Homo sapiens: one gene and its partner. The protein of the gene in region 2 purifies or fractionates together with the protein of the main gene of each other region. This does not show direct contact. Each region holds a gene or a part of one and is shown on either strand. Other genes may lie near its edges.

What was found. The genes of interacting proteins can lie anywhere in the genome.
Region 1: the proteins of TULP3 (region 2) and WDR35 purify together in Homo sapiens (affinity purification with mass spectrometry; 6 studies listed by BioGRID and IntAct, with this or other methods). This does not show direct contact.

The regions. Positions count from the first base shown.
Region 1 is NC_000002.12:19,931,078-19,938,105, forward strand, and holds part of WDR35 (WD repeat-containing protein 35), read right to left. Parts: intron 6,870-7,028; coding exon 6,666-6,869; intron 5,289-6,665; coding exon 5,142-5,288; intron 4,527-5,141; coding exon 4,394-4,526; intron 2,435-4,393; coding exon 2,324-2,434; intron 1,371-2,323; coding exon 1,206-1,370; intron 333-1,205; coding exon 192-332; intron 1-191. UniProt on the Homo sapiens protein: As a component of the IFT complex A (IFT-A), a complex required for retrograde ciliary transport and entry into cilia of G protein-coupled receptors (GPCRs), it is involved in ciliogenesis and ciliary protein trafficking.
Region 2 is NC_000012.12:2,928,876-2,935,903, forward strand, and holds part of TULP3 (tubby-related protein 3), read left to right. Parts: intron 1-89; exon of another isoform or gene 90-150; intron 151-1,372; coding exon 1,373-1,470; intron 1,471-2,161; coding exon 2,162-2,365; intron 2,366-4,542; coding exon 4,543-4,655; intron 4,656-5,571; coding exon 5,572-5,686; intron 5,687-7,028. UniProt on the Homo sapiens protein: Negative regulator of the Shh signaling transduction pathway: recruited to primary cilia via association with the IFT complex A (IFT-A) and is required for recruitment of G protein-coupled receptor GPR161 to cilia, a promoter of PKA-dependent basal repression machinery in Shh signaling.

The DNA of each region.
Region 1 (7,028 bases), on a different chromosome or scaffold from region 2:
ATTTCTAGGTAGAAATTTCTGAATTTGAATACTAATTCTAAATCAGTCATTCTTTTTCTTCATATCATTTAAGGAAACAAATGCAGACATGCAAATTAAATGACCTATCCATAAAAGAAGTTTAATAGTTTCTTTTTTTTTTTTTCTTAAACACTTCCAATGATGTAATGTTATTTAACGTGCTACTTTACCTCTGAACTTTTTCCTTTAACTTTTCCTCGCTGGGCATTCTTCATCTGTTCATGGTATTGCTCTATAAGTAAGGCTGACAGTACATAGAGCTTCTTGACACGTAAAGGTTTACTTCCTTTCTTTGCCTCTTCATCTGCAATCTTAAACATTTTTCAAAATTGAGGGAAGTTACTTCTTATCTATATTTGTACAAATACAATCATTTCCAAAACTAACAAATTTGATTCCCTAAAAAAGGAGGAAAATCAGTAAGATGGAATATAAATATCACCTATTTAAGATAAATATTTTAAAACCTATCTTCTTTTCATTAGTACCTATTCGTATTTAGTTCTTTCCTTAGTATTTAGCCCTAGGAGTTGGAATTCAGATCACTCTTAGAAAATGAGAGGTGCTGTTAGATAACTAAATCAGAATAAAGAAAGTATTGATGAAATGCTGGTATTTTCCATAATACAGAGATTTTTAAAATAATGTTCCAAGTACACAAAGATATGATAGTGTTAACATGGTGCATCCTTCAGAAGCTGAAACTTATTTAAATGATTTTAAGAGATATTTTTCCTTTTTCATTAAATCAAATGGGAATAGAATAGAAGGTAAAATGTGTATACATTAATACTGTACTAATTATCTTCCCTCCAAATAAATATTATGTAAAGCGTAATATTTAAAACTTGTACATTTAAAAGAACTTAAAACTCTATTATCAACAAAATTTAATTCCCTGTTGTAGAAATTTGTACTTTGCAGTCTCAGTAATTTCTTTAACTCTTTGTTAACTCCAGTATTCAACATACAATTGTTTAGGTATTAGTAAGTTGCTAATATTAATAAACATCTTTGTTGGTAAAAGGCAATAATACTAAAATAATGTATACAGAAGCAATAAAACCAGAGTGGTTTTGCTGTAATAAATATTTGTTTCCAAAGAAAATGGAGAATATGCTCTTTCATATATTAAAATATTGTGACTGGAACAAATCAACTATTCACCAAGATTTTTACATTACCTTAAACATCAGTTTAGCTGCATCAAAAAAGTAATTGGCTTTCCGATAGAGTTCTATGGCATCAAGAGTTTTATTCTTTTCCAGTAAATGAGATGCATACCTAGCTAACAGAGATCCAATTTCTTTCATACTATGATTTTTAGCCAATTCAACAGCTTTGTTCCACTAGGAGAAAAATTACACCATTCAGTCACCCAAGTATTTACAGTCACATATATCATAAAATTCACACAAGAAAGCTTTAAGTTTATAGTAAAAACACTATTTCAAAATTAAAAACTGGTATGTTTTAAAAATAGCATTTAAAATCACAGCAACATAAGTCCTATAAGCATAAGTCAAAATGATTAAATGATCTCTAAGACTCTGATTTGCTTAAGAAATACATGTGAAAATGAAAGTTTCAAAGTTTATAATCATATTAATCTTGTAATTCTAATCTTACAAAACTTCAAGCAAGAAAGATACACTTGTTTATATGTTATAGTAAAACAAAATATGCAATTTCAGTTGTGAAAATGTCCTATCAGATTTGACATTTAAAAATTATTTTTATAAAGCAAAAGGGGTTTTAAAAAATAAGAAAAATATTAAAAGAATACATTAATAGTCAATAGTTTCTATAATAACGCTGTACTTTTAGTTTAATTTCAGCTCTTAAAAATATCAAATGTATGTTTTCTATAAAGGAAAAGGAAAACAGATTTGCCAAAATAAATATTGATAAAGTAACTCAATTCCTTCCTCAGGCAATGACCAACCATTAACTGGTCCTTCTTTGGAAACAAAACCCAACCCTAACAAAATGCAGAAAATTATGAAATTACTTCCAGACAAAAACTTGCCAGACTAAAAGCACAAGGTTTGTTCATGCTCCCATACTGAGCTGGTTATAAGTGGGTCACCCCTCATGGTAGCACTTTAAGAGGTAAGTGCAACTTTCTTCATCCTCAATTAAGAGAATACCCGCCTGGCTCCTTTCATAAAATTCACGTCAGGCTCTCCAACCCTTACATTGGCAATAATCTTTAAAAGATCACTAGGGTGACTTTAACCTTGCTTTGACTTAAAAATTCCTAAGACAATAAGCTGCACAGACAGAAAGTTTCAGTTCCTACTTGGTTGAGATGTACGCAGGTATCTACTGCTGCCTTTGGTTGACTACATTTCAAAAATGCAGTCACTGCTTGTTCACACATTCCAACTCTGACAAACATTTGTGCTATTTCCTGTACAAACAAAACAATACTATCAGATTTCACAGACCAAGGAAATTACTTATATTTTAATTTAACAAAACTCCGTAGGGACGTATGAGTATTAAATTTACTGGTAGTTACAGATTTTTCTTGTAAACAGACGCAAGGGCAGAGGGTACAAATGAGAATGGATGCTAAGGCATCACTTCTATAAATCCAGAGCTTCACTGGCTCAGGCTGTGGATCTGATTTTTAACGAGGCCCTGAAGACACTGCACTCCTTTCTTATCTCAGTTCAGTAGCTAGTATACAGAAATGTCAAGCTCCAAAACAAATCCCCCACCAGTGGGTGAAAAAAGCCTTTATATCAATTGGTGGTATACTCAGTGCTAATTATTAACTAGAGACTTAAGGGAAATCTCACATTCACAGAGCCCTCAAATACCTCTATAAAGAAATGTCCTAGAGAAGTCTGCCATTAATCAGTTCAGGAAGCTAGACCCAAAACAGAGCTCTCTTGGAAAGTGGTGGCAGCGAGGAAGAACCACCACCACCACCACCACCACCACCACCACCACCACCACCACCACCACAAAAAAAAATCCTACTTGTTCAGCTGCACTGGCCATTTTCAGAACATCATTTTTTTTCTTTCAGAATATCTAATTAGCCAGAGGTTTTCCCTCCCCAACCCTTCTACAATATGTTTGGAAGTATGAAAGTATATTTTATATCCAACTTTTAAAACAATGCTTATATTTTTCTGATTATAAGGGAATACATTCTATCTGTAAAAAAAATTACAAAACATGAAAAAGTGAAATTACTCATAATCTTATCATTCATAAGAAACCTCTCTCAATACTCTGGTGCAATTTCTTAACATCTTTGTCCTTTGAATATATATGTATATGTTTGTGTTGTACACAATCACACAATACACAATTTTGTATCCTGTATTTCCTACTTAAATATTATGTACACCTTCCCATATTATTAAAAATTCTTCTATAACTCTATTTAAAATTTATAATACTAAAATTTTTACTATTTTAGTTATTTAATTATCATTATAGTTATAATTACTTAGCATTTACTCAGGAATATTACTATTCTGGATACCCTACAGCAAAATGTTTATCGGCATCATCAGACACATCTAACAGACAACACTAACGGAGTATACACTCTTCCCTATACCCAGGGTTCTAAGTAATTTCAGTTTCTTTCCTACTCAAGAAAACCCATAGGATTGAAAATAAGGGTGAGTGAAAATACCATTATTACAGAGATAGCCGCTCAAATTCACAATAGGGAAAACTGAATTACCGTAATTCTATACTTATCTATTAACTAATAGGCAAAATTTTTGAAGCAGAACTCACAACTGATATACATCCAGACTCTGCAGTTGAGAGCTGCTAGCTCTACAAGTATTGTACGGCTCAGTGATTCACATATTAAACACATAAAATACAAACTTATTTACAGTATTCAACAATTAATTAAGAGGCTCTAAAAGAACATTTGAAAGCAAGAGAACTCTTTCCATTTCTCTTTTAACTTGAAATACTTTATTGTTAATATAACATAATAAAAGTTGAGCTATCTTTTTAAACTTAAGTTATAGCAAATTTCAAACAATTTCAGATTATTTTGAAGCAAATCCCTAGCAACATATCATTTCATCTGTAAATATTTCATGTATTCAGCTAACATTTAAAAAGTAACTTTATAAATCTTAACAGACTACACAAGACTGTGATCATATTAAAGTAGTAAGAATGTGACTGACTTTTCCTCCTCCATTTTCAAGCATTCTATATTATTTATATATTACTTTATAATTAAAAGCATCATTCCATGTCTAAGAAACTGTAACATTATAGATTTTTAATTTTCTTTATTGTGGGAGATATTTCCTGACTATAACATAAAATTTTATAAAGTAACCTAACAATTCCAAAAACTAAAATTTGCAATACCTACTGGAAGTAACTTGTGGTTTTCTGGAAGTGAAATGGCAAGGTTCTCTAACCCTTCATAATCCTCTAACATATAGTAACATTCAGCTAAGCGTTCCTGGTTCCGTCCTTGTACATAATATTGTACAGCATTCAACCTACAGAAAGAAAAAAGGAAAAACTTTTAAAACTAATGTGAATCTCCTGATAAATAAGCACTTTCAACCAAAATGTTCCTTCATCATAATTCCCAGTACTAGTATTACTGTTCATTATCTTCAGCTTCAGAATAACTTTCAAACATATAAATGGGGAAAAAAATCTAAAGCATATTCTAGTTGTAACATTCCTTGACTATTCTTAAGAAATACCACCGCTTTACTCCCAAACACTGACATAAATAAGCATACTAATCAAAATGAAAAGAAAAGCCAATGATTTCTGAAAATAATATATAATAAAGCAAATAAAAACACTTATTAAACTTTGTTCAAAAATAAAACATAAAACACCTTAGAATTATATACTGTAGGCTCAAACAGAAAGCTGCATGGAGCTAAGTACAAGTTTTGTGTTTATACACTACAAATTTTTATAGTGCTCATCTCACAACTTCACAGGATCTCCGGCTTTCCAAGATGAATCTAGAGCTATCTGAATTTTAGAATTCAAGAAAATGATCTTCATTTCCCCAGGATTACTTCCTAGAGAAGTACTCAGGCAGCTACTAAGTGTTGCATGAATGCTTGAGGAGCTCCAGGTAAGTTACATACCACTTTTGTCGATCAGCAAAGTAGTCTCCAATGGCATTGTTGGCTTGTTCCAGGAGACTGTCATCTGCATCACCAGATCCAGTTTTCAGGAGCTGGAGTACTCTAAACCAATCCCCCAATTTCAGCCGGAGGCCAATAGCAAGATCCCTACAAACAAAGGCATTCATTCATTCATTCATCTATTTGACAAATATTTACCAAGAGCCTGCTGTGTGTTAGGTACAGTTCTAGGTGCTGAGGCTACACAGCAGTGGACAATGTGACTCTCCAAACACTTTAGGAACTTAGCCTGACTAGCTAAGAGGAAATGAGGAGCACCTGGAGGTTATGGTTTGAATGTGTGTCCCCTCCAAAATTCATGTTAAAACTTAATCTCCATTGTGGTAGTATTAAGAGGTGGGGTTTCTGGGAAGTCATTATGTCTGCCCTTATGAATTGATTAATGCCCTCATAAAAGACTCCTCAGAGAATTTGCCCCTTTTGCCCTTTTCACTTTCCACCATGTAAAGGCATAACATTCAAAGCACCATCTTGAAAGTGAGACAGGGCCCTCAACAGACACCAAACTTGTTGACGCCTTGATCTTAGACTTCCTAGTCTCCAGAACTGTGAGAAAAATATTTCTGTTCTTTATAAATTATCCAGTCTCAGGTATCTTGTTATAGCACCCCAAATGGTCTAAGATACCAGAACAGGGAAAAGAATGTTGTGCCTTTACTTTCCTGGACTTTCAATTTATTTAGCAAAATAATGATTTAAATAACAATCATTTCTTTTCAGCAATTTCTTAGATGTGATCAGGTTTATTTCAAAACAAAACACAGTGTTAACACATGTGGTTTTATATGACTTTTCAGAGCCTAAGTCATATTAGAGATCTCCTGGGAGTATAAATAACATTAATGAAGATGAGATACAATCTTAACAGCTGAAATGAAGTTCAGACAGACTCTCCGCCTTGTGGTTCAGTGGCTAAGATTATCTGCTTTCATAGCAGCTGCCTGGGTTTGATTCCTGGCCAGGGAGACAGGCCTTACAGTTCTTTAATTCAAAAGAAGAAATATTTATGAAGTTCATACATTATTTTATATAAATCAAAAACGAAATATAAAGAACTAATCTCGATCCCTAACGACTTCTGATTTTTATTTTATGCCTCTTGACAACATAAAATTAAATAATGGCCTAAACAAACAAAGAAAGAAAGAACTGGAATAATGAGCTATGTCTTAAATATAAAAGATCCCAGTCTCTGTTGTTCTATCATTTTTTCCCATCAAATGAAAAAAAAACCTCCCAGAGTCAGCCATTATTAGATGTAAAAACAGAGAAGAAAACTGCCTCCAGACTATGAAACACAAATGAATGAGAGGCATGTAGAATATCTAGGTTGTAATCCAAACTTAAAATTAATTTCTAAAAGGAACCATATGATACACCTAACGTATTTATAGTTTCCATTTGTAAAAAATACAATGATGAACTGATAGAGTACTCAGGGATGCCTGCGCCTTCATAACTTACCTTCTGTCCATCTCGAGATACGTTCTTTCAGCCTCTTCAAACCTGCCGAAGTAGCCAACAACTTCAGCCTGTTTCATTGACTCACTCAGTAGTTTGCCCAAGCGCTTCACAAACTTAATGCCTTGGTAATCTTTGCAGCGCACAAATGCTTGCTCTGCAGTGTATAGATCCAGTTTCTGAAGAGCTGCTTCAGCCAGTAGGCGCCTTTATTTTAAAAGAAACAAAAACATAAGTGCATATTGCAAATTACTGACAAACTAGTCTTGAATCACAATTCAATTATCATTTATGTCTATTATTTCTAGAGAAACATGGTGGAAAGTAACATATGCAAACATTTTTCAAATAATTTTCTGCTTATTT
Region 2 (7,028 bases):
CGGAGGTTGCAGTGAGCTGAGATGGTGCCACTGCACTCCAGCCTGGGCAACAGAGTGAGACTCCATCTCAAAAAATCATAATAATTTACCAGTGCTGCAGCTCTTTTTAGAATTTGTCTAGCAAGTTTTCCTGTTTTTACTGAAGCCTTCCCTTCCCTTCCAAATAACAAAAAGTACACTTTTTTTTTTTTTAAGAGTTCGGGTGGGCCGAGACGGGCGGATCACGAGGTCAGGAGATAGAGACCATCCTGGCTGACACGGTGAAACCCCGTCTCTACTAAAAATACAAAAATTAGCCGGGCATGGTGGCGCGCGCCTGTAGTCCCAGCTACTTGGGAGGCTGAGGCAGGAGAGTGGCGTGAACCCGGGAGGCGGAGCTTGCAGTGAGTCGAGATCGCGCCACTGCGCTCCAGCCTGGGCGACAGAGCGAGACTCCGTCTCAAAAAAAAAAAGAGTTCGGGTGTAATTCTGTCACCCAGGCTGGGGTGCAGTGGCACAAGCATAGCTCACTTTAGCCTCAAAATCCTGGGCTTAAGTGATCCAACCACCTCAGCTAGCTAGGACTACAGACACACAGGTACCATCGTGACCAGCTAATTTTTTTAAAAAAACTTTTTATGGAGACAGGTCTCAAACTGGTGGCCTCAAGCAGTCCTTCTGCCTCAGCCTCCCAAAGTGCTAGGAGTTCAAGCACGAGCCACTGTGCCCTGCCTAAATTTTTTTTGTTTTGTTTTTTTGAGACAGAGTCTCTGTCTCCCAGGCTATAGTACAGTGGCACAGTCTCGGCTCGCTGCAAGCTCCGCCTCCCAGGTTCAAGCGATTCTCCTGCCTCAGCCTCCTGAGTAGCTGGGACTACAGGTGCGTGCCACCACACCCGGCTAATTTTTTGTATTTTAGTAGAGATGGGGTTTCACCATGTTAGCCAGGATGGTCTCAATCTCCTGACTTCGTGATCTGCCCACCTCAGCCTCCCAAAGTGCTGGGATTACAGGCATGAGCCACCGCGCCCAGCCTGCCCTGCCTAAAATTTACAACTTTAATCAATTTTAAGTGTGAGATTCAGTGACATTAAGTGTATTAACAATGTTGTGCAACCATCACTACCATCCATCTCCAGAACTTTTTCATCATCCCAGAGACTTCACACCCATTCAAGATAATTCCTCATTCTCCCCTGCCCCCAGCCCCTAGTAACCTCTATTCTACTTTCTGTCTCTATGAATTTGCCTGTTTTATGTATTTGGACAAAATAGTTGTGTTTACGGTCAGAATAGTTAAGAATGTTTTAAGCAAGAAAATTAAAACTATCTTTGTTTCAAAGACCTTTTTTAAACAGTGTTGGCAGTGCTAACAGTTCTTCCTTTTCTGCTAGATATCTCTGAAAGTGTGAACTTCGATGAGGAGACTGATGGAATATCCCAGTCAGCATGTTTAGAAAGACCCAATTCTGCATCAAGCCAGAATTCAACCGTATGTAGTTCTGAAACTTCTTCCATTAGAGCTAATTTGACTCTTTCTCAAACATATCTTCAGTATTTATTTATTTATTATTATTATGTATTTTTTGAGGTGGAGTCTCGCTCTGTCACCCAGGCTGGAGTGCAGTGGCATGATCTCAGCTCACTGCAAACTCCGCCTCCCGGGTTCACGCCATTCTCCTGCCTCAATCTCCCGAGTAGCTGGGACTACAGGCGCCCGCCATGACACCCGGCTAATTTTTTGTATTTTTAGTAGAGACAGGGTTTCACCATGTTTGCCAGGATGGTCTCGATCTCCTGACCTCGTGATCCGCCCGCCTCAGCCTCCCAAAGTGCTGGGATTACAGGCATGAGCCACCGTGCCCAGCCCTCAAACATATCTTCAGTATTTAAATACCATTACTGAGTGAGGGTTCCTTCAGAAGTGTAAGCTCAAATTTAGTTTATGATCTAATTTTTTCTGTCTCAGGTCAGCTATTGTGAGGCTTTGTCCCATTTTGATACTTACTCTTCATTACTCTCAATATTCATATACTTAATTTAACTTTTCAGTTTTCCTCATTCTGTCAGAAGACTGAAGACACGGGTAAATTACTAAGTTGCTTTGTCCACTAAGTGTTTTTCAAAGAGAATCAGATTTTGAGTCTCGGCCTGTTGTTGCTCATGTATGGCTGTCCTTTCAGGATACAGGCACTTCCGGTTCTGCTACTGCCGCCCAACCAGCTGATAACCTCCTGGGAGACATAGACGACCTGGAGGACTTTGTGTATAGTCCTGCCCCTCAAGGTGTCACAGTAAGATGTCGGATAATCCGGGATAAAAGGGGAATGGATCGGGGTCTCTTCCCCACCTACTATATGTACTTGGAAAAAGAAGAAAATCAGAAGGTATGAGAATTGATTTCTAAGAAAACTCTTGAGAGAGAGAAGAATGTTGTGGGAATAGATTGTTGATGGGCCTTAGGGAACTAACTCTGGTATTAGACCAAGCCAGCTGGAAGTAGATTGTATCTTTCAGTCCCCAGATGCTGTGTTCTCATTTTCTGCAAAGAGCTCATGGTCTAATAGGCAGCAAGCTCTACCCTCCCACAAATAAGAGCTTTATCCACGAAGTGGGAAAATGGACGGGTAGTTGTTAATGTAATTATTTTCACCTGTCTCCCATGATTGAGTTTTTGAATGTTACTGTTTGTTCTTTTGGTTTTTCTTTTTATTACGGAAGAACATGACATTGTGGAAGGAGAGTGAGTTTTAGGGAATAGGAGGAATTAGAAATACAGAAGGACCTACAAGTTAAATGTCTTGTTTCTCACCCTAGAAGTTCTAATTTATTTTATAAGTTTGAGCCAGCGATGAACTTTATTTTATTAATTTTGTATTAATACCAGGTCTTAACAGATGATTTTAAGAGCCTAGAAATAAGATAATGATACTAGGTGTTAATTCTTCTAACCACCATTTATTGAGTGTTTACGACAGACCAAGCATATGCATATATATCTATATATATTATCACCTGTAATCCTTGCAGCCACCTTGTTAGGTAGGATTTCTTACCTCTGCTTTAAAGATGAGGTAACTGGGGCTTAGGGAGTGACTTACCTACCCCACGTTGCACTAAGTGGTGGCAGAGCCAAATTCAAACCTATTTTGCATAATTCTAAAGTCTTCCTGCTTAGCCACTGCCACTCTCCTGCTTCCCTATTATGGTCCTAGTCTAGGAGAGTTTAGGAAGGATGCCTATATAGGATGGTATTCATGCCATTGAGGTCACAGTGGTTTAACACAACAGCAGTATAGAAAAAAGAGTATTTCCTCCCTGGAGAGGCTTCCCTTTTGTCCCTTCTTGCCCTTTGCCTAATCAGAGTCTTTCCTGATGTGCTTCACCAGATGTGGTTGACATTCCTCTGTCTGTGTCCCCATGGCATGAAGAAAGCTATCACAGGCCAGGTGCGGTGGCTCACACGTATGATCCCAGCACTTCGGGAGGCTGAGGCAGGTGGATCCCTTGAGGACATGAGCTCGAGACCAGCTTGGCTAACATGGGGAGACCCTGCCTCTAGCAAAAAATTAAAAAATTAGCCAGGAGTGGTGGCATGCACCTGTAGTTCCAGCTACTCGGGAGGCTGAGGCAGGAAAATCACTTGAACCTGGGAGGCAGAGGTTGCAGTGAGCTGTGATTGCACCACTGCACTCTAGCCTGGGTGACAGAGTGAGACCCTATCTCAAAAAAAAAAAAAAAAAAAAGCCATCACAGTAAAGAATGGGAAGGTTTTCAGGATCCTGTCTCTCCTAAGGTTGGAAAGACTCTTAATCATGGCATTGGATGAACATTGATTGTTATTTATTTATTGGATTTTGCAAGGTTGCCCAGGCTGGCCTTGAACTCCTGGACTCCAGTGATCCCTCTACCTCAGCCTCCCAAGCAGCTGGGATTATAGGCTCATGCCACCTGGCCCAGCTTTGGAGATTTTTTTTTTAACTGGAAGTTTTAGGGATGAAGTTGTAACTAATTATATGGAGAATCAAGCTAGTGAATTTAGAAAAACTGTATAGGAAGAAAACCCTGATAGTGAATTATTTTATTTTTATTTTTTATTTTTTTTTTGAGACAGAGTCTCATTCTGTCACCCAGGCTGGAGTGCAATGGCATGATCTCGGCTCACTGCAAGCTCCGCCTCCTGGGTTCATGCCATTCTCCTGCCTCAGCCTCCTGAGTAGCTGGGACTGCAGGCGTCTGCAACCACGCCCAGCTAATTTTTTGTATTTTTAGTAGAGACAGGGTTTACGGTGTTAGCCAGGATGGTCTCGATCTCCTGACCTTGTGATCTGCCCACCTCGGCCTCCCAAAGTGCTGGGATTACAGGCGTGAGCCACCACACCCTGCCTGATAGTGAATTCTGATAAGAGAGTTAGAGAAAGGGATAAAGGCCCAAAGATTAACAGCTTGACATATGCTGAGGACTTGCTAAGCACTGGCTGAATGAATATGTAGGACAACCATGACCAGAGGTGGGGCAGGTTCTCTGGACTTCATTTTTGACTGACACTTTTTCTTTTCCCAGATATTTCTTCTTGCAGCTAGAAAGCGGAAAAAGAGCAAAACAGCCAACTACCTTATCTCCATTGATCCAGTTGATTTATCTCGTGAAGGAGAAAGTTATGTCGGCAAGCTTAGGTGAAAGCAACCTTAGATCACTGTCCTATTCTTTCTGATAGTCTTATTCCTATAGTTGCAGAACAGTCCTTATCTTGGTTACAACTAGCATGTATTGATGTTGTAATCTTAAAAAAAAAGAAAAAGGAAAAAAAAAAAAGCTGGGCGCAGTGGCTCACACCTGTAATCCCAGCACTTTGAGAGGCCAAGGCGGGCGGATCACTTGAAGTCAGGAGTTGGAGTCCAGCCTGGCCAACATGGCAGAACTCCCTCTCTACTAAAAATACAAAAATCAGCCAGGTGTGGTAGAACAGCCTGTAATTCCAGCTACCCGGGAGGCTGAAGCACGAGAATTGCTTGAATCCAGGAGGCAGAGGTTGCCGTGAGCCAAGATAGTGCCACTGCACCCCAGCCTGGGTAACAGAATGAGAGTCTGTCTCAAAAAAATAAAAAAATAAGGCTGGTGTGGTGGCTCAGGCCTATAATCCCAGCATTTGGGGAGGCTGAGGTGGAGGATCACTTGAGGCCAGGAGTTTGAGACCAGCCTGGGCAACACACTGAGACATTATCTCTTCAAAAAACTTTAAAATTAGCCAGGCGTGGCAGTTCTCACCTGTAGCCCCAGCTACCCAGGAGGCTAAGGTGGGAGGATGACTTGAGCCTGGGAGTTTGAGGCTGCAGTGAGCTATGATCCCTGCCACTGCACTCCAGCCTGGGCGACAGAGCGAGACCCTGTCTCGAATTAGTAAGTAAATAAAAAGTTAAAAGAAAATCTCAGTTCCTTCCTTGCTTTAATGAGATATTTTTGAAAAAGTGATGATGAACATTGAGACATTTGGAAAACAGGCAAATAGGCTTCCATTTTCCTTCTCTTAGATTGTGTTTGTATAAGAAAAAAAATACAGATCATCATGGTGACTTTTTCTCCTGACTCCAGATCCAACCTCATGGGGACCAAGTTTACAGTTTATGACCGTGGCATCTGCCCCATGAAGGGCCGGGGTTTGGTAGGAGCGGCCCACACCCGGCAGGAGCTGGCTGCCATCTCCTATGTGAGTGCTGCTTTCCCAGGGCCGCTGCCTGCCCTCCTGGTGTCCTGCTGGCACTTTTCACCTAGTGTCGCTGAAGAACCTCCCCTCCCAAGCTTGTTTCTATTTCTGTGATTTCTGTTGCTGTACCATTTTCTCCATGTATTTGAGTTTTAGTTATTTGAATTGCCAAGTTCAATTATTTTTCACTCTCAGAACATTTCTTCCCTTATTTCCTTTTCTTTTTTCCTGCTGCCACTTAATTCAGACCTTTACTTCTTACCCAGTGGCCAAAGGTTACAATAAATTAAAGCTGATCTTTTTTTGCTTTTAATCTTTTCCTATCTAGTTCATTCTCTTTTTTCTCTTTTTAATCTCTTTTTCTTATTTTTTTTCCTCTTTTTGGCATTTATAGTCCACTTCTTTTTAAATTGTATCTTATTATTATTTGTTTTATTGTCCTTTTTCATTTCATTTCACACCCGGGAAAGGCTTGAGAACTATCTAGCTCGTTCTCTGCTGCCACCAAATGAATCTTCCTACAACGAGGCTCCAGTTGATCCTCCTGTTCTGCTTCAAATCTTTTAGTGACTACCCATTGTGTGAGATCTAACATGGTAGCATTTGCTTTCAGACTTCTCTATTGGCATGCCCCTCCTTCCCATCATTCTAGCCAAGCAGCCCTCCTGTCATTCCTTTGTCCAACCACACTCATCTTTCCTCCTTGGAGAGGCTTCCCTTTTCCTCTTTCTGGCCTTTTGCCTTATCAAAGTCTTTTCTGATGTACTCCACTAGATGTGGTTGACATTCCTTCATCTGCGTCCTTGTAGCATTTGTAACCCACATGTATTTGTTATTACTTGTTCAACATGAACCGTTTCCACCAGTTTGTAAACTTGTGAATTCTTACTCATGGCTATATCCATACTAGCACATGGCTTGGCACACAGTAGATATTCAAAGAGTTGTTGAGTAAGAGAAAGCAAGAAGGAATTGACCCATCTCAGCTGGTTTTTTTATTCCAAAGTCTCAACTTTCTTAAGTTGAAATTAATCCCATGAGATCTTATCTACATGCCTGAGAACCATTTGACTTCACACTTTAATGTAAGGTGTCTTTCCTCTATAGCTTTCATATATAATCTGCTTGGCTTGGCTGGGCTTGGTGGCTCACACCTGTAATCCCAGCACTTTGGGAGGCTGAGGTGGGCAGATCACTTGAGCCCAGGAGAGACCAGCCTAGGCAACATGGTGAAACCCCATCTCTACTAAAAATACAAAAATTAGCCGGGCATGGTGGCAGTCGCTGGAGTCCCAGCTACTGGGGGCACTGAGGCAAGAGGATCACCTGAGTCTTAGGAGGGTCG